3 separate regions of the Homo sapiens genome follow, and all the other regions are linked to region 2. Evidence: fine-mapped expression QTL. A gene starts in region 2. Each other region holds a variant in brackets. All regions are shown on one strand. Distances are from middle to middle.

The links. PIP is the estimated chance that this variant, and not a neighbour inherited with it, causes the effect.
Region 1: its variant is the best candidate, but not a certain one, in a credible set for the expression of PYROXD1 in monocytes (BLUEPRINT, PIP 0.58).
Region 3: its variant is the best candidate, but not a certain one, in a credible set for the expression of PYROXD1 in whole blood (TOPMed, PIP 0.84).

The regions. Positions count from the first base shown.
Region 1 is chr12:21,562,549-21,567,548 of GRCh38, reverse strand. GYS2 (glycogen synthase 2) reads left to right here. Exons shown (of 16, transcript NM_021957.4): 6 at 4,204-4,321; 7 at 4,511-4,631. Among named protein-coding and RNA genes, the nearest start is that of SPX, 39 kb to the right of the region's middle. The variant ATATT/T (reference allele first, on the strand shown) is at 2,155.
Region 2 is chr12:21,428,707-21,439,731 of GRCh38, reverse strand. It overlaps PYROXD1 (pyridine nucleotide-disulphide oxidoreductase domain 1), which reads right to left and starts at 2,077. Exons shown (of 12, transcript NM_024854.5): 1 at 1,918-2,077. The coding sequence starts at 2,001. RefSeq lists enhancers at 1,929-2,118, 2,169-2,248.
Region 3 is chr12:21,468,914-21,474,211 of GRCh38, reverse strand. It overlaps PYROXD1 (pyridine nucleotide-disulphide oxidoreductase domain 1), which reads right to left. Exons shown (of 12, transcript NM_024854.5): 12 at 2,962-5,298. RECQL (RecQ like helicase) reads left to right here. Exons shown (of 15, transcript NM_002907.4): 12 at 570-661; 13 at 2,565-2,784; 14 at 3,114-3,243; 15 at 3,866-5,298. The coding sequence ends at 4,018. Among named protein-coding and RNA genes, the nearest start is that of RECQL, 30 kb to the left of the region's middle. The variant TA/A (reference allele first, on the strand shown) is at 2,451.

The sequences.
Region 1 (5,000 bases), 130 kb before region 2:
AAAAAAAAAAAAAAAAACAAGATAGAACAAGAACCCAACTAATTTGAATAGTGGCAGCATTAAGAACCTATAGTAGCCTTTTTTCTTTCCAAGGATTCTCTTGAATTCGCTTGGATTCTTACTCTCATTCTTCTTTTGGGAGTTTATTCCATCAATATGCTCATTTCTCTCTTGGATCTTCCTTTTTCCTGTCTACAGTTATCTTTCTCTGAGCTCACAAAAATACTTTCTTTGTTTTTGCCTATTCTAAAATGAAAATTTCTCTTGAGGTTTCTACCCTGCCAAATATCATACCATCTCCTCCTTTCTCCTGCTGCCAAATATCTTATAAGAGTAAACCATAATTGCTAGGTTCACTTACTCATTAGCCCCTGGGACTCTGGCTTCCGACCTCCAACTCTGGCCTAAAATTGTGTTTCCAAAAATCATCGAATTCAGGGTCATCTAATGTTTTTTATTTTTCTTTATATTCTCTAGCATTTAAAGGCGGTGAACATCTGTTTCCATTATTTTTCATGACACTGCACATTCTACTTTCTTTCCAGTATAATCTTTTCTGGTGCCTCTAATCATTTTTCTACTTTCTTTTACTTTTCAAAGTGGACATTCTCCAAGATTCTATTCTAGGTCCTGCTTTCTCTATATACTATTTTCTTAAATTTTTGTTTTCTTAAGAATATAGCTACAGAGTAGTGGTCAAAGCATGAGCTTTTTGCCAAACTGCCTGTATTCAGTACCAAAAATGATTTTATGTTGAGTATACGTTACTAGCTGTGTGACATTATAAAAGTTACTTAAGCTCTCTGTGTCTTATCTGCATAATGTGGATAATCCTTTCTCTTATCTAGAATCATTGCAATGATTCAAACGTTAACATATGGAAAAAACTCAGCTCAGTGCCTGGTACATTGTAAAGATTTAGAAAATATCGATTATTATTTTGTGTGGATCACTGTCTAGATTTTCCCCAAGTTCTCATCTATTACTGAGTGCCCACAAGCTAGCTTTCTCTGGAAGTTCTACCAGAAACCATAAACACTGCAATCTGGGCTTCTTCAGACTTGCAGTAGAATCATGTGGTGGCTCTGATGGAAATTGTGAAATCTCTGAACATTTTGTGGCTCAAGAAGGTCAATGGACTTTTAGTAGATCATTAAACATATAAACCTTCCCAAGAGCATTCTGAAAAAAAAAAAAAGATCACATAGTGTAACTATGACTTTGTATTCCTTGATTTTTCTTGAAGTCTTCCCCGATTAAAAGTTTAACTACAGCCATTACTTTTAACGCTGAGGGTGCAACTACAGAGCAAGAGGAAAATTGGCTGGGTGAAAAACATGCATGGGACCAGATATTTTTCAAAATGTCACTATATAATAATAATTGGCAAAAGCTTATATTTATTACTATATCATTATGCTTTTGCCATAAATTTGACTCAAAATAGTTTAAGATGTTGAAAAGGTGATATTTTCTTAAAAATATTGGAGAGAAGGCAGTATGATAAATTTACCAATTACAGATACAAAACTGAATACAACATATGCCTTAAATATCTTATGTTGCTTTAAAAAAATTTGTCATTTTCCCTTTAATATAGTCATTAATAGTGTTGCAATTATTGATTTTGGAGCCCATGCTAATACCTTACTATGAACTCTAGCTAATACCATCCTTTAGTCAACGTTTTTCTTTTGTGTTGGCGTTGTTAACATCAGAAAGGTGGGTAACATTGTCTTCTACTTGGGAACAATAGCAAGAAATTAGTGACCAATGTTGCTTCCAGGGAAAGGAAAAAATTATGGAACGGAAGTGAAAAGGAGATTTTTCAAGGTCAATATTTTGATTTTTTAAAAATTTAAATGATATGAGCATATAACTTATATACACTAATTTATTATGTAATAATACATGTATTTATATAAACTAATTAAATTAAATTAATCAAATTAATTTAACTAATTTAACATCATTTCCTGGTTATTTTACTACATTTTACTATGATTTTAGGTTATTTGTATATAGTAGTGCAGTAATACCATTATATGTTACTGCGCACCATTACATACAAATAACCTAAAACCTATAACCTATATAATGGTGCAGTAACATCCATATATATATATATATATATATATATATATATATATATAT[ATATT/T]TCATGGATGGAAATAGTATAATGGTGTTACTGCACTTTTCTTCCCAACTCTGCATTTACATTGGTAGCTTGAAATCAGTCATGATGGGAATATTTACACCTTGGAGAAAGGCAAACACTAAAATTATCTATCTCTCTCTCTCTTTTTCTCTCTTTTTCCTGGAGTACTCTTTGTTAAATTTTACCAGCATATGACTGCACATAGGCCTGTGCATGTGAGATTATTCTGTTATAAATATGGATATTAGAAGACCTCACTGGCCTAACACTTTAGGCTAATGAACAGACAATTTCAGGACACAGATCTTTTTTTTATAATTGTTTGTGAAACAATTTGGAAAACTGCTGAGGATTACAATCCATAATAAGCTGGTATCCACATACATTCTTGCCTTCTATAGCTTTTGTATGGTACAGTTGTATGACACCACTGCATCAAAAGGGTGGAAACTCCTGAGCCAGGCTGCTTTGGTTCTAAATCCAGCCTCTGTTACTTTGTGCTTACTTGACATTGGGCAAATGACTTAATATTCTGCAGGCCAGTTTCGTTATTTGTAAAATGGGGACAGTGAAAACAATTTACCTCATAGGGATTTTTAAAAATTATTATATATCAAATATAATAGGGCCTGGCACAAAGTGAGCCCTACATAATTGCTGTAGAAAGATAAATACATTTTAAGATGTAATTGTCATACTGTACGAATCACATTATATAGTTCATTTAGGAATTATTCACATGAAAGCTTTCACTGGAAACCTTGGCTACTTAAAATTGATTCTACTGTGGCCATGTATGTAAAAGAGTGTAACAAAGGTCAGATTACTTAATAAAAACTCATAAAAATCAGTAAGTTTTTATTTTCCACAAAAAATGACCAAAAAGCCTGGATTGATTTTGTGGAACCATGTCAAGAAAATAGCCAGTTAACTGTAAAAGATTCTTTTTTTTTTTCTTTTGAGATGGAGTCTCACTCTGTCACCCAGGCTGAAGTGCAGTGGCGTGATTTCAGCTCACTGCAACCTCCACCTCCTGGGTTGAAGCAATTCTCCTGGCTCAGCCTCCCCAGTAGCTGGGACTACAGGCGCACACCACCATGCCTGACTAATTTTTGTATTTTTAGTAGAGATGGGGTTTCACCATGTTGGCCAGGCTGGAAAAGATTCTTAAAATTACAAAAATCTTCATAGCCCTATGCCACATTTTTTTTTAACATAGCTTCTTTTTTCTTGTTTTTGCTTTATGCTGCTAAATCTGATAACCCATGTATTCAACTCAGTAGGTAGTTTCCGTCATATGCTCAGAGTGGTCCCTCTCTTTCTTGTCACAGACCAATGTTTTGAAAACCAAGAATGTCTTCCTGCCTGAGCAACAAAATCTCCTGGGAAGAATGAATCAGTTGTGTTAGAAATAAGAGATGGAAATAAGAATAGAAATTAGAAGTAAGAGGTTTCCTTTTCCAATTTTCCAAATGCACAAAAGGTGTCCCATACACTTGTGGAAAACAAGATGGCAGGAGGTAGTTTAGTGCAGGGTTAAGGAAACAGTATGTGGGGTCAGACTGCATGGATTCTGCTTCGACTTACCAGCTGTGTGTTCTTGGACGGCGTCTTTAAACAACTCTGTGCCTGAGTTTCCACCTCTGAAAATGCAGATAAGAGCACTCACTCCCTTGGTTTGTTGAAGAGATTGAGTTACACTCTAAGCCTTTAGAGCAACACCTGGTACACATTAAATAATCAATAAATGAGTACTATAATAACCATTATTATTGTTATTGATTAACTTGTTTCATTGTACCAGTGCTTCATTGTTATTTTGGTCAGGCATTTCTGATTTCCTATTTCAATCAGTAGACCAAATTTGTTGCGAATTTTTATGAATTTTTTATGAACTGGAAGTTTTATAAATTTTAAATTTTATGGTAGTCAGAAAGTAGAATGTCAATAAACATCTAACTTTATAGTTTTAAAGATACTTTTTTCTACAATGGTACCCTCTTTGAAAAGAGAATTTTCATAATAATTTTGTTTTGCCTTTCTAGATGTAGTTACTCCAAACGGCTTGAATGTTAAGAAATTTTCAGCAGTGCATGAGTTTCAAAATCTACATGCCATGTACAAGGCCAGAATCCAAGATTTTGTTCGAGGTCATTTCTATGGGTATGATTTTCTTTATTAAAAAGAAAAAGAAGTATCAGATATGAGTGATCTTTGGTAGAGAGAAAACAGAATTGTAATAATAAATGTTTATCTTTCCCAGCCCCCTTTGTACATTAACAGAATTCATGTGTACATTTTGTTACTGTTGCTGTATTTCATTTGAAACTGTTTGGTTTTGTTTTGTTTTAGTCATCTCGACTTTGATCTTGAAAAGACTTTGTTCCTTTTCATTGCTGGGAGGTATGAGTTTTCAAACAAAGGAGCTGACATCTTCCTAGAATCCTTATCCAGGCTAAATTTCCTGCTGAGGGTAAGAAAGCTCTAGGACATGGTATAACACTCTTGTAGGGAGAACTTTCTTCTGTGGGAAGTGAAGAATTTTTTGGCTTCTTAAATAGTTTTCAAGAGAATAAACGATAATCGTATTCTAAAAATGGCTTCAGCCTTTCAATTTACATATTGGAGTTACCACACTGTTGACTTGTGTGTTTGTCTATAATGTCATCTTTTTTTTTTTTTTTTTTTTTTTGGAGAATCTTAAGCTTATCCCATTATATGTCTCATTAAGCTTATCCCATTCTCCCCTTCTATGTTTTAATAAGTCATTATAACATCCCTTTTCCCTCACATGAGTTTGTAATCAATTGAAAAGTAAATATAGAGAAATCCAGTAAATGCA
Region 2 (11,025 bases):
CAAAGTCTGGTTCCTCGACACCACCACCCTCAATAATCTGGCTTCTATTCCTACTCCATCACTAAAACAGCATGTTTGAGGGATCTATGAATCCTTAAAATCCAAGGGATTATTTATTTTTTTTTTAATGGAGATGGGATCTTGCCATGTTGCCCAGTCTGGCTTCAAACTCCTGGACTCATGCAATCCTCCCACCTTGGCCTCCCAAAGTTCTAAGATTACAAGTGTGAGCTATCGTGCCCAACACCCATGCGATTCTTCTCAGTCTCATTTTATTTGAACTTTCTATATTTGACAATATCATTACTCTCTCCATCTTTCTTTCCTCTGTATATTCTGTAATTTATATCTCTGCTGTTTCCATTGCTAGATGAGGTCCTCAAAACTTCTTTATACTACTGAAATCACCTTCGAATTGGCTCTCCAGTTTCACGTATAAACCAGCTGCCTCTGCCACAAATACATTGTAACTAATCATCTTTCAAGCCTTTTCATATGATCAAGTTACTCCACTGCTCAAAAACATTTGACTACTTGTAAATTCTTGTTAAGTTCTCAGCATGCTAAGACTCCTTATGATCTATGCTTTAAGCTTTACTGCTCCCTGATGATCCATGCTTTTCCACTGGAGATGACATTCTTTTCTTGAATACTTGGTAAACTTTCACTCATTCTTTCATAATGAGATTTTAAAAATACCTTCTTTGATTAAAAAAATTTCCTCTTCCCTAATTCACTCCCTACATACTCCACAGGCACCTCTAAGATAACCGTTGATATCTCTTGCATAGACATACAATATTGTAATATTGTCTCTTCCAGCAGGCTGTGAGTCCCCAGCATGGTATATACCATGCTGTTCATAGTTGAACACTCAGCCCTTAATACGGTGCCTGCATCATATATGTTTACTTAGTGAATAAACGGAAAATACGCATCCAACGATGGAAACACTTGAGTTTCTTCCACTATTTCTTATGACTTCAGTGATTGCTCATGTTTACTTTATATCAACAAAATAATGTAGAACTTTTTGGAATACACACATGTATCTGAATATATATGGTCTGGCTATTCAGTATAATCAAGAAAGCAAGCCCTACATGCATTTAATCCTTCGCTGATTATTTTACAAAACTTTACTAGAAATAAAGTTTCTTCTATCTTGGGAGTTCGAAGTATAGAAAACTTACATATGGGATTCTTTATTAATTAGTTAAGATGCACTAAAGACTTGGCAACTATCTGGAAACTAAACTCAATCACCTACGATAATTAACAAAGGGGGCTGAGGGCCGGGTGCTGTGGCTCAGGCCTGTAATGCCAGCACTTCGGTAGGCGGAAGCGGGCAGACTGCTTGAGCCCAGGAGTTCGAGACCAGCCTGGCCAACATGGTGAAAGCCCGTCTCTACTAAAAATACAAACATTAGCGGGGCGTGGTGGCTGGCGCCTGTAATCCCAGCTACAGGCTGACGCAACAGAAGAATCGCTTGAACCCGGGAGGCAAAGCTTGCATTAAGCCAAGATCGCACCACTGCCCTCCAGTCTGGGCGACAGAGTGAGACTCCGTCTCAAAGAAAAAGAAAAAAAAATAAAAAGAAAGGGGGCTGAATTTTTTGTCTAAATACAAAGTCCTCATGTCTGCTCTGACATTACAAGGATCTGAGCACGGATCAGCCAGCTTTGGTTTCTCGGCTATAATTTGCCTCCCACTCCTCCCTGCGCCTAAGAGAAAGCTAGTGAGGTCATCTGAGGACCACCAAGCAGTTTCTAAAATCTGGGAGCAATAAGTGCGGAAAAGGGCGCAGCAAAAAAGGAACCCGGAAGAAGAAAAAGGGAGGGGGTGGGAGGAAGGCCTCCAGTGCTATCCCCTTTGGGGTCGGGGAAAGAGGCGGAACCGCCTGAGCACCGCCCTACCTGCTCCGCACAAGTGACGCCCGCGATGCCGCCGCCGACCACCACGAACTTCCCTGCCGTCGGGGGAGGGCGCGCTGCCTCCATGCTGCCGGACTCCCAGTGGTTTACTGAATATCGCGGCGGAGCAACGGGACTCTGGACTCCAGGAGAGGAAGCAGCCGCGAGGCGGTCACTTCCGGTGCCTTACCAGATAATCCGACCTACGGGTGCTCGGGAGCTCACACTACTCATCTCGAGTACCTGCTGCCGGCTGCGTTTCGGAAGCAACGAATTGTCTCGTGGTGTTCAGAGCTTTGCGTTACTATTACTACACCTGAATGTAGTTATTCCATGAAAATTTGACAAAGAGAAAACCAAAAAATTAAAAATAAAAAAGTAAAGAAGATGGGTTGCCCAAAGAAGTTTGATAAATTACATATCTAAAGATAGACCAGTGTTCTCACGGGACAAAACATTCATATAATAAATGAATTGGTGTGAAGTTCTCATTATTTGTTTCTGCGAGAAATTAGAGGCACAGATTTTATGCTCTTATGAGTAGAAGGAGCCTTCGGGAACATCCTGACCCCACTCCTGTCATTTTTGTAGATGAAGAAACTTGAGTCTTCTGAAAACCACTTGATTGCCACCGTTCACCTAACAATCCAAGATTTTTGTTTGTGGAAGCACAAAAATTCTTCATGACAAGGCAAAACAATACTACTGAATTGTTCTCTAAAAAATCATCCTTTTCATTTACAACTTTGACCTCAGCTAAAGTTTCCAGGAAGAATGTACAGTTGCTTTCCATTTTGTCAAAACAAATGAACATTTCTTAAATTTCCAGTCAATAGCAGCATGTGTGAGGGTTGAATGAAATATTCCCAGTCTCGGTTTTACTGTGAATTTTTTTCGTGGTCAATTGTTTTTAAGAAATTGCTAAATCATTTTTAACTGTTTTTACTATATTATTCACTATTCATATTATTTTACTATTTACTATTACCTTTGCTGTCTCATATAACTTTCCCTAGGAGTTGTTTTGTAATGGTAAGGTATTATCTCTCAAATGGTTCACTCTAAAACTGGTAATTACCCGAGTCCCTTTAATTCTTTAAACACTGAGAATAACCATTATATATTAACAGGAAAGCCTACCACGTATCTAATTACAGGCATTTACTGATACCTGTAAAAATCATTGTTCTTTGATTTACCAAGTTAAATGGTAAGCGGTTTAATAAACGTGTCTAATTCCTGTTACTAGTATAGCAACCAAACAAAGCATTCATTTCTAGGAGGAGGAAATACATTCCTTAAGCCCATTTAGATCTCATCTTGCTTCAGCTTATTTTCACATTATCTCACTCACACTGTGTTCCATTCAGGCCACACTACACTTCCAGATCCCAGGATATGCCATTTTCTTTCTGAGCATTTGCACATATCTTTTTCCCAACTACTTTTCCCTGGCTAACTCATCAACCTTTGGTTTCATCAAGCCATTGCTTCCCCTTTAAGATACTTTATCTAACATCCTCAAGACAGCTAGGTGTCCTCTCCGTGTGTTCTTATAGCACTTTGTCATCCTCTAAATTTAGACTTATCCCACTTTATTGTAAATTCTTACTGCCTGACCCCACCACCACCATAAACTGCTTACATAATCTCAGGGATTATTTTTGTCTCCCTTTGTATCTCCAATGTTTAGTAGGGAGTATGTATTCAACAAAAATGTGCTCAACGAAATAGGAAGTTGGTGGAGCATGAAACTCCCCTGAAGTCCTTCTAAAGATTTTTAGATTCATTGTCCAGGGTCAGGATCCTCTTGTATATTGTGACAGGGGTTTCCTCTTTATGGAAGTCGGAAGGAAGAATGGAGTGGAATTTAAGCTCCCAGGGGAAACGGAAGGAGATCATCGTCTGTGGGAGGGGAAGCAAAGTAGTAGGAGGCTCCTCAAATGTAAAGGGGTAATGACTCCACACTCTCCTTTTTTCTTCCCCTTGTGAAGGCTGGCTTTTTTGTCAAAGGTGATGTAGGGATAAGACCTAGCTGCCTGCCACACTGGCATGAATATCCAACTTTTAGAAATGTCTAAGGGTTAAAGAACTTTCAGTGCATCTCACCTTAATGTTGATTAAATTAGATACATATACTGGATGTAAAGTGGGTTAAAAGTAAGATGTAGGTAACTTGAAACATGTTATCCACAGGGAGGGCAGCAATAGGTACAGGTTAGGAGAAAGGGCAACTGCAAAGAAAACTGGGCACCTAGAAATAAGGGAGGCCCAATGCCAGGAAGCAGCAGAGAAGCAGAAAAGACAGAACTTCAGCTCCCCTTTAGCTCTGGTCAGCAAGCTTAGGAGTGACCTGGTGACTGTTTCTGAGGAGTCAAAGAAATACCAGTGTATTGCTAAATATTATGGTGTATGTTTATGGGTGGAAAAGAAAAGCAGGACTTGGCAAAGAAAGGTTCAGAGAAGAAGTGGAATTTATATTGAATCTCAAAGGCCCATAGCATTTGGATAGGTTCAGAAGAAGATGTGGCAAGTCATGTGGGAAATATCCCAAGAACCAAAGGCTTAGCAGCAGGAATGAGCATGGGAAATACAGGAGATGGTAAAAGGGAAGAAAGAAAGAAAAGTGGTTGGGGAGTTCAAGATTCATGTGGAAAAACTGAAGGAGATAAAGCTATCTTCTTCTATTTCTCTCCATAATGTTGTTACATCTGATTCCCATACCCACCTAATCTCTTGAAGGCCATCCCCAACTTTCAAACTACCATCAAAATCTAGTCTTCCATTCTTCTTCAAGTTGATATCAGAAATGCCTAGAATAGGAGTATTGAGGTTAATTTTCAACTGCAAAAATTGGGAATGAATAATGACATTTCATAGTTGGTGATTAATAGCTTTTGAGTCAGATGACCTAGGTTCAAATGTGGCACCAGCATTTCTTTGTTGTGTGACCATTCAGTGAGTTATTTACCTCATCTGAACCCTAGTTTCCTCATTGGCAAGACGGGTATAAGATCTACTTTGTAGAGTTGTTTTGATGCATGTGTGAGGCAACATATTTAAACTTCCTAGCATAGTGCGTGCCTCTTAGTAGGATTAATGGTTAAGTTGCCTGCCTGTGCCCTGTTGAATAGACTATGTTTCTCTGTCTAAAGGATTTTATCTATGATCATAACCTTAACAAGCCTATTATGCTTTTAACTCCCAAATGTCTATCTCTCATGCAATCTACTCTGAATCTTCAAGCCTGAAATTTCTGAAACATCTTGGATATCTTCTCATTTTTATCTTGGTTTTTGCCAATTCGCTGTAAGTACAGCCTGGATTCATCTTGCACTCGAAACCTCTTCTTTGTTTTGTTAGTTCATATAACTGATTTACTGAACAAGCTGGACTTTATAGGGAAGAAATTAAAGCAAACATTTTTATTTCTCAACGCTTTTCCTGTGAATGTATTTTTCTCCTCTAAATTCTTATTAATTTAGCTTATCTGATCATTCTCAGGTAATAAAAAGTCTGGTACTACCTATTATCAAAACTCCAGACACGCATCCAATTAAAGCCTCACCTAACTACAGGCAACGCAAATTGATTTCTTGTTGCTTTTTTGCTCCAGCTCTTCTCCTAACTAAGAGCTGATGTTTTCAGGGGCTTTAAGATTGGAGGGTGGGTAAGGAGTAAGGAGAGGAAAGAGCCTCACTGTTGTTCCTGTATGAGCATATATATGCAAACCTACCCCCAAAGGCTGAGAGAGCTGAGAGGCCAAAGAAAAACTGACAAATCCAGTTTCTCAGAAAGAGGTATTTAATAGGGACTTACACACAGAAATGATGATTCTGTTACAGTGCATCCCCACACCTGCCCTCCAGAAATTATGTAAGCTTTTAGGATAAAAGATGTACAGCTGATCATGTCTCAGACTTTCTTGCAAAACTCATGAACACTGGGGAGTCTAGATAAGAATCTTAATGAGAGAATTATCTAAGTTACAAGCTTTGTTTCTTTTGAAGGGTTATCTATGCTATGGGCATTGTTTAAGGACCTTGCTGCAGAACACCTTAGTATGCAGGAATCCAACATCAGTCATCATGGCCGTGGTGTCATTCTTGCCATACCGCAGGCTGTCTTCCTATATCTATGAATCAGTGGTGTGGTACAACTGTGAATCTGTGAGAGCTGATTGTTAAAATTTTAGGATTTGTGTGAGCTGATTGTTAACACAGCTATTGTTAAACACTAAATTGTATAAACATAATCAAATAAGTTATATTAAGACAAAGGTAATAAATATTCAAAACTTCTTATTTCCTAACTCTTTTGCTATTATCTCTACTCTTGAGGTTATTTACATCTATTGTATCTACAGGTAAAAATATAATGGTGGGCTACTATACATTTCTTCCTACTGCCTCATTCAGCGACGTCATGTTGATCTTGAAATTGGCCGTAATAGGAGTATTTACACCATGGAAAATGGCAGATTATACAAACCAGAGTTTGATTTATTTTATTGTTGATTTTTTAGAGTTAAAAAGGTGGTGGACAATAGCAAAGACATGGGATCAACCCAAATGCCCATCAATGATAGACTGGATAAAGACAATGTGGTACATATACACCATGGAATACTATGCAGCCATAAAAAGGAATCAAATTATGCCCTTTACACTGACATGGATGGAGCTGGAGGCCATTATCCTTAGCAAACTAACACAGGAACAGAAAACCAAATACCGTATGTTCTCACTTATAAGTGGGAGCTAAATGATGAGAACAGCATGGACACACAGAGGGAAACATCACACACTGGGCCTGTCTGAGGGTGGAGGTAGGAGGAGGGAGAGGATCAGGAAAAGTAATTAATGGATACTGGGCTTAATACCTGGGTGATGAAATAATCAGTACAACAAACCCCCCATGACACATGTTTACCTATGTAACAAACCTTCACATCCTGTACATGTACCCCTGAACTTAAAAGTTAAAGAAACACAAAATAGATGGAGACTCATTTAAAAAAACTGATGGAGAGAATGTTAATAATGAAATTAAAAGAGTGTCATGTCTGTTGTGGTAGATTGTAGTACACTGTGAATAGCACAAAAAAACTGAAGAAATTCTTTTTTCAGAGAGCTGCTATTCAATTTAGCAAAGAACTCACTAATATCAGACAAACAAGTGAAATTGCAACCTATTGTTCCTTTGTTTCACTTCCATCTTACTAGTTAATGTAAATAGAAAAGTCAATCAACATTCAAACTACACTCATCAATTGCTGTCATAGTTTGGGTAATACAAGCAAAAATCAATGAAAGGATTCTGTAGAATCAGCTGGCTATATGGAATTTACAATAAAGAGTATTGCATATTATTATTTGTAAAATATTTGCTATACACCTTTCAATAAAATTTATAATAAACCTATGTATATATACATACACACACACACATATATTTATACATGCAGTTTTTTCAGACAGCCAGTTGTTCAACATTTGCCGGCACAAACATTAGTTATAATCTAGCATCGCTGTTTTCATGGTGTGGCTGATTCCAAATGTTGATTCTCTGCTGGGGTGCTTTTATGGGTACATCAGAATCTCCACATCACTGGGGATCTCTCACCTACAGGTTCTGGGCCTTTCCTTCTCCAGATTCAGTCCCTTTTAAGATGAAACAGGGTCCACAATGGGCTTCTGGGAAACTCACTCATCCTTTGTCCCCACTAGACTCTGAAAGTGCACATCAAGCCAACAGAGCATCTCTCTTTTCTGCTGTCCGAATGTCTACCTAGTCACACCTCTGTGTCTTCAGTGGAATGAAGTATCAGTTTCTGCATCATTCGGACTCCAGGGGCTACCTGTAAAGCTCTCTAAATGGTTCCCTTAACGTCCTCCTCACTTGTGCTGCGGACAGGGCATTGGTGGTGGTGGGGTGAAACACTTTCCCTTCCTCTTCCCCATATGCTTCGTGAGCATGTTGGAGCAGGGAGTGAATGTGATGCACTAATGCTGGCAAAACCAATTTTATAGTCTTTTAGCACGCGTTGCCTGTGTGGTCTAGTACCTTGCGTTGAAGGCATTGGTCAACTTGACGCCTATTATACTGTTCTTAAGCTTTTGGAGCTGAATTAACCAGAAAAATCACATTTAACCCCATGATATACCATGTTTGTTTTATAAATATTAAACTTATACCATTTAGAAAACTGAATGCATTTCTTACACCATATTCCCTCAACTTCAAAGTGTAGTTTCTCAAGTCCTACCAATTCTAAAGTGTTTCCCAGTTCCTTCATTTCAGTTTTGACTGTTACTGCGCTATTTTTGGTCTTCTTCGCCCACTTAGACTATTAAAATGAGTTCCTGATTGGTCTTTGTTCCTCCATTCACTGTCTTTAAACTTATCCTCCATGCTGCCGTAAGAGTTATCTTATAAAAGGGAGATGTGGTTCCTCTGCCTTTCTACCACTTCTGCTTCTGGAACATTCCCAGTTCCCTGAATGCATCAAAAATTCTTGTCTCAGGCAGGGCTTGGTTGCTCACGCCTGTAATCCCGGGACTTTGAGAGGCTGAGGTGGACAGATCGCCTGAGCCCAGAAGTTCAAGACCAGCCTGGGCCACATGACCAAACCTCATCTCTACAAAAAATACAAAAATTAGCTGGGCATGGTGGCAAGTACCTGTGGTCCTAGCTACTCCAGAGGCTGAGGTAGAAGGATCACCTGGGACTGGGGAGGTTGAGGCTGCAGTGAGCCTTGATCGCACCACTGCTCTCCAGCCTGAGAGAAAGGGTAAAACCTTGTCTCAAAAAAAAAAAAAAAAAAAGAATTTTGGTTTCCTTCATTACAGGCTTTCTTGCTCTGCCTATAGAAATCTATGGGTCTAAGAATGGTAAGCTCAGATGCCACCCACCATTCTCAGGGAGAAATGGCCAAATCTGTAGTACTTTACTGCATTGAGCAGTGTTTCTTGTGTTAAAGTTGGTGTGTCCTTATTAGGCTTCTTTGAGAAAGGGAATGTATTTTATTCACCTTTGATTTTCTTGCTTGTGGCCCTAATCCCAGCACTTAGCACAGCAATTTAAGTAATATTTATTCAATAAATGTTTCTTAAGTCTTTATAATTAACATAGTAAGCACAATCTTATAAAGACCGAGGCTTCATAGTATGGCTGAATCTACAATTGTGAAACATGAATTTGCCTTATGAGATACTGCTGTTCCTTTCTCAATAGTTTGATATGATATTTTGAGACCAGGTTGTTCTGTTGTTCTAGGTAGATAAATGTTACAGTCACCCCACAGTATCAGGAAGGAACTCACAGTATCAGGAAGGAACCCCCATCCAAAATTTGATTTGGATGTGAAGATTAATGATCACACACACATACACACACACACACACACACACACACACACTCACCCCATGAGGGAATGAAAAGGCTTATTACTTACATAATGAGGCTTTCTGGGGAGAATAGGACAGGATTATAAGCTGATCCAAAAATAGCTTGGAGAGCAGAGAAGGGTGACAGGCCCTGTTTTTAATGAGATTAGGTGATCGAGCTGGGGTGAGAGTTCTGGCACATACAGGCCAGTCCTTGTATGGCTTGAAAATCACGTGGGCACCAAGGGAGGGGCATACTGAAACCTTCTCAGACTGCCCAGATGTGGGGCAGCAAGGGACAGGGGAGTCGTGAGGCCTGAAAGCTTCCAGCAGTCAAACATCAACAATGGAATCAGGCTCTTTATTACAATAAGAGGCTTTCCTGCTGGGTTTCCAATGCTGTTTACTCGGTTTATAAAATTTCTAAGCTCTTCACAAGCGGTACCATGGAGCTTCATATTTCAATTTAAGTTTCAAACCATATCAACAGGAAATACTCTTATTAAGTTGTAAGTACACAAATTCCAAAGCCAAATATAAAACCTTTTTTATTATCCGCACCTCGTTTCTATAACTTTTGAATCATGATGAAAACTTCTAAAAGATGTCCTTCATAGTACGAAATAGTATAATTTGCATGTACTTTTCTGTATCCTTTATAAAGAAATAGATTTATAACTTTCATGCTGTTTTTGAATAAAACATTAGTACTTATGTTTCATGGCATTCATTCATTAATTGCTATGATTTCCATATATAAAATAATTGTGACAGCAGTTGAAAGAATTATTATTTAATGATCTGAGGCTTAATTATTTTCTATTTAATACATCAGGTAACATTTTAACATCAGTTACATTGAAGATCAGGGAAATTCAGATTTTTTTTTCATAATTAAATAAAATCAGGCCAGATATGGTGGTTCACACCTGTAATTTCAACACTTTGGGAGGGAGGCTGAGACTGGTGGATCGCTTGAGTCCAGGAGTTTGAGACCAAACTCGGCAATATGGCAAAAGTTCGTCTCTATAAAAAACACAAAATTAGCCAGGCATGGTGGTGCATGCCTGTGGTCTCAGCTACTCCAGAAGCTGAGATGGGAGGATCACCTTAGCCCAGGAGGGCAAGGCTGCAGTGAGCTATGATTGTACCATTTCACTCCAGCTTAGGTGACAGAGTGAGACCCTGTCTCAAAAAAAATTAAAAAAAAAAAAAACTGTTTTCAGGCTAGTTATTATACTAAAGAAAAAGGAAGAAGCAACACTTTCTACTCCTATTTTTGTTGATTAAAATAACTTGTGATTTCTAAAAAATAAATTAAGATGCAAAGAAAGTACAGCATAATTTATTCGTAATGAGTAAAATGTTAAATTATGGTATCGAATGTGGCTAATTTATTTCAGTTGACGGACAGTACCGAAATTAAAGATTTTTTATCTCTTAATTTTACTTCTTTTAGAAAGAAAAATGAAACACATTTGTTGTTTCAAATATTATTGCAGTACACATTAATTTTTTTAAGTTTAAACTAACCCCAAACATATGTATATGAACATTTAAGTAAATTTTCCCTTTTAATTTTGAAAATATATTCAAGTTTACATGAGATTTTAAAGTTTTAGCTGTCAAAATATCTTTACTCAGTTTATTTATGCTAACAATGGTGGACATTGAGAATGCTTGACCAAAAGCAGCAAGCTACAAAGGAAAAGAAACATTCTCA
Region 3 (5,298 bases), 37 kb before region 2:
GGCCAGTAGAGTCTCATGAAGCATATTTTAAGGTTTCAACTCAAATATTGCTACTTTATTAAAATATAAGAAACTATTTTACTGTCAAGAATATTCTCCTAATAGTTGCAAAACATTGAATTTAAAAATGGAACTCAGACAATTTTTTAAACAGTGTTTATCAAGAATATGTGGGGAAAAAAGTCCTATGTCGGGGGCACAATGGCCCCCCAAAGATGTTCACGTCCTAATTCCTAACCTGTATGTTACCTCACATGGCAAAAGGAAAGTAGCATTGCACATGGAATTAAGACTGTTCATTAGCTGACCTTAAAATAGGGAGATTATTTTAGATTGTGTGATGTGAGAAGAACCTGACACTCTGATTTTGATCCAGTGAAACCCATAGTACACTTCTAAATCTAAACCACAGAAATGTAAGAATAAATGTGTTTAAAGCCACTAAGTTTATGGTAATATTATGGCAGTTATAGGAAGCTAATACAGTATATAACTATGTAAGCTGAAATAGAGATTCTTAAAACTTTATTATATCCTTTAATAATTTGTATCTTTAAATGTGTTTGCAGATGTCGTCGTGTGTTGATGGCTCAACATTTTGATGAAGTATGGAACTCAGAAGCATGTAACAAAATGTGCGATAACTGCTGTAAAGACAGTGGTGAGTTTGTTGTTTTGTAAACCTTTATAGGCTAATACAGTCATAATGCCTAGTGACAGAGATACGTTCTGAGAAATGCATCACTAGGTGATTTTGTCATTGTGCAAACATCAAAGTGTACTTACATAAACCTAGATGGTATAGTCTCCTAGGTGATATGTTATAGCCTATTGATCCTAGGCTACCAATCTGTACAGCGTGTTACTGTACTGCATACTGCAGGCAGCTGTAACACATGGTTAAGTATTTGTGTATCTAAACATAGAGTAAGTACAGTAAAAATATGGTATTATAACCTGGGTGACAGCGAGACTCCGTCTCAAAAAAAAATATATGGTATTATATAATCTCTTGGGACCACTGGCATATACGTGGTCCATCACCGACCAAAATATTATGTGGCACAAAACTGTATATACAGCTGGGACATGAGAGAAGTATTAGACTTCCAAATGGATTTAAAAGATTAAAGTGTGAATCAGATTTTCCAGAATTAAAACTATCAACATGAAGTTTTGAAACAAAGGTGAATAAAAGGAAAAGTCTTATGTGTATGCACACATTTTATATTGCTATACTGAGGATGTGAAATTTTTAATAAATGAAGGAAAATATTTGAATTTTTCTGAATAGAAATGCTATTCTATAAGAAAAGGGAAACCATGTGATAATCTCTAATACTTTATAGTCACTAATTGAAAAGAAAATTTAGTGCAAAATAGAGACTATAGAGAATCACTTTTGATCCAGTTAATGGCTAGTCATCGGAGATTTACTTAAAATTCTTTTAAATGTAGATCAGCAGGATTTGTTTTCTGAGCATTGGTCACAACCCTGCTGATCAAAACAGGATCTGGTCAAAACAAGATATAGCAAAGAAACTGGCCCAAACAAGTTAGAACTAGAAAATATAATGTATTTGCATGATGTAAGACACTCCCACTAGCACCATGACAGTTTACAAATGCCGTGACAATGCCCGAAAATTACATGGTTCTAGGAACTCCCTAACCTTTTCTAGAAGATTCATGAATAATCTTCCCCTTATTTAGCATATAACTAAGGAGCAGCTATAAATACCGCTAGTGAGCAATGTACAGTGCCACTCTGCCTTTGGGGTAGCCCTGCTCTGTCTATGGAGCCGCCATTTTCCTATACTCTATTGCTAATAAACTTGCTTTGCTTTCACTTTACTCTGTTGGCTTGCTCTCAGATTGTTTCTTGCATGAAACTGGGAACCCTCCTGGGCTGAGTCCCAATTTTCGGATTTGCCTGCAGCATTTTGGCACTATATTTTAACTTTTTTTCATCCGTGTGTTGTATTTCAAGATCTGGACTAGCCAGTACCTCATGGTAAGACCTTACTGAGTTCTGATGCCTTGTTAGGTGGAAGCCACTGTATTTTTAACTTTGCAGACAGAGAAATTTATGAGTTTATTAGACTATCTTATAAAATAACAAGAGTGTTATATATAAATCAGAGTACTGGTCTCTTAATAATTGGGTTATCAGTTGAGGACATTCTTGTTGCTAAATCAGAGTTCACTCAGGAGCCTATACTAGAACAGACAGGGTCTCCTATAAAACACACCTCTTAGTAACTTAGTAATCATGTCTGGCAGACACTTTCTGATTTCTAGAGTATATGGCAGGGCTTCTGATAACCAATTTTTTTTTATATATATCACTGTAAACCCCACAATGCTTACAGAGACCATAACTTGGTCTAGTGACAGAGACTTGAGGAATAGCCTAGTCTTAATTCAGAATACATTTAAAAATCAATGTT[TA/A]GGGTGGCTCACATTGATAACCAGCTTTAAACCAGTTTAACTACTTAAGATAGCCTATCTTTGCCCTCATTTCTAAATCCTAATTACCTGCTACCATATTTGTTTTATTACAGCATTTGAAAGAAAGAACATAACAGAGTACTGCAGAGATCTAATCAAGATCCTGAAGCAGGCAGAGGAACTGAATGAAAAACTCACTCCATTGAAACTGATTGATTCTTGGATGGGAAAGGGTGCAGCAAAACTGAGAGTAGCAGGTGTTGTGGCTCCCACACTTCCTCGTGAAGATCTGGAGAAGATTATTGCACACTTTCTAATACAGCAGTATCTTAAGTATGTACAAACTCATTCATTATTCTTTCAGGTTGTCTTTATGGTTTTTTTTTAAAAATTGCAACAGAATAAACGGTTTTGCAGTTATTTTGTGTGAACTTTTAAATGCTATAGAAAGTAATTTACCTAAAACACTCAAACTTTAATCACTATAAATAAAAAAAAGTAACGAAAATATTTTCTTTAAAGGCTTTATTTGCATTCTTGTAAATTTTATTATTTCAAGTCAATGTGTTAAGAATTACTGCGCATATAGTTATTTCTTTTATAAATTTGTTTTCCGTGATTCCTTCAAAAGCTTTCTTATTGTTGGCCTTTATTTTCTGCAGAGAAGACTACAGTTTTACAGCTTATGCTACCATTTCGTATTTGAAAATAGGACCTAAAGCTAATCTTCTGAACAATGAGGCACATGCTATTACTATGCAAGTGACAAAGTCCACGCAGAACTCTTTCAGGGTAAATGGCTATTAATTTTCAGTTTTATATATTTTAAAAAGTATATTAAAGCCTATGGGATGCTTTTCTGTCATATTCCCCTAGGTCCAGTTGAACATGAGAAAAGTCAGTTTTCTGATTAGATTTCTGGGTATGGAAGAGAGAAAATATAGTTTTCTGTAAAGATGTAAGTGAAAGAATTTAGACTGGCCTTTTAACATAAACTAGGGGTTTCCAGTTTCTTGGAATGGGAGGACTCCGTTTGAATATCTAATTTTGTTATGCACTCTGCTCTTATTTGGTTGTGATTACTAATAGTTGAGAAGTCTGTTTCTGCTGTTCCAGTGGTTAGAAACCACTGTTTTAAACCAAATACTATCAAGTCTGCAAAAGCATGTCAAGTCAAGTGCCATTGTGTCTAAGGACATTTGAGGTCTTTAGAACTTCTCTCACAACGTAGCCCCTTTTATTCAAAATAGAGCTCATATTTGAATAGAAATTTGTAGATAAAAAACTAGACCCCTGTATACTTAAAAAGCCAACTGATACAGAAAGAATATTTTGAAATATTTAATCTCATGAGAAAACTGAATAGCTGGATTTTTACCAAGGTGCTTGCTTTGTTTTTTTTTTTTTTTTGTAGGCTGAATCGTCTCAAACTTGTCATTCTGAACAAGGTGATAAAAAGATGGAGGAAAAAAATTCAGGCAACTTCCAGAAGAAGGCTGCAAACATGCTTCAGCAATCTGGTTCTAAGAATACAGGAGCTAAGAAAAGAAAAATCGATGATGCCTGATATGAATGTTACTAAATTTTCTAATTAAAGATGGTTTATGCATGTATATGCCATTATTTTTGTAGTTAGACAATAGTTTTTAAAAGAATTTCATAGATATTTTATATGTATGGATCTATATTTTCAGAGCTTATCTCTGAAGATCTAAACTTTTGAGAATGTTTGAAAATTAGAGATCATGAATTATATAATTTTCCAGTATAAAACAAGGGAAAAATTTTTATGTAAAACCCTTTAAATGTAAAATATTTGAGAATAAGTTCATACAATCGTCTTAAGTTTTTTATGCCTTTATATACTTAGCTATATTTTTTCTTTTGACATAACTATCTTTTTGAAAGCAATATTATACTGACAGAGGCTCACTGAGTGATACTTTAAGTTAAATATGTAGATCAAGGATGTCCAATCTTTTGGCTTCCCTGAGCCACATTGGAAGAAGAATTGTCTTGGGCCGCACATAAAATATGCTAACACTGATGATAGCTGATGAGCTTAAAAAAAAAATTGCAAGAAAAATCTCATGTTTTAAGAAAGTTTACAAAAAATGTAAAATATTTGAGAATAAGTTCATGTAATTGTCTTAAGTTTTTTATGCCTTTATATACTTAGCTATATTTTTTCTTTTGACATAACCATCTTTTTGAAAGCAATATTATACTGACAGAGGTTCACTGAGTGATACTTTAAGTTAAATATGTAGATCAGGGATGTCCAATCTTTTGGCTTCCCTGAGCCACATTGGAAGAAGAATTGTCTTGGGCCGCACATAAAATATGCTAACACTGACGATAGCTGATGAGCTTAAAAAAAAAAAAATTGCAAGAAAAATCTCATGTTTTAAGAAAGTTTACAGATTTGTGTTGGGCTGCATTCAAAGCTGTTCTGGGCTGCATTAGACCCGTGGGCTAGAGTTGGACAAGCTTGTAGATGATTTCAGGTTATAAAACCAGAAGTACAATTCAACAAAAAAGGAGTAAGTCATCAATATAAATATTAGCAAACGAGATATTGCTACATCTCTATTTAAAGTAAAATACAACCGATTTTAAAGTTCCTGAAACCATAGCCATATTTTGACATTTCACAAAGAATGGTTCTAGTCTACTAGAGTACATTTGGCTAAGTAGATAACTTACCTAAATTTGCTCCAAAGCTAAATCACAAGTAAACATATTTATGTTTAAAACACAGAAATAAATAACTTAAGATTTTTATCTAAGCGGTCAGTGTTGTATTGGAAAGATATATCTATAAATAAACTTTGAACTGATTTCAAA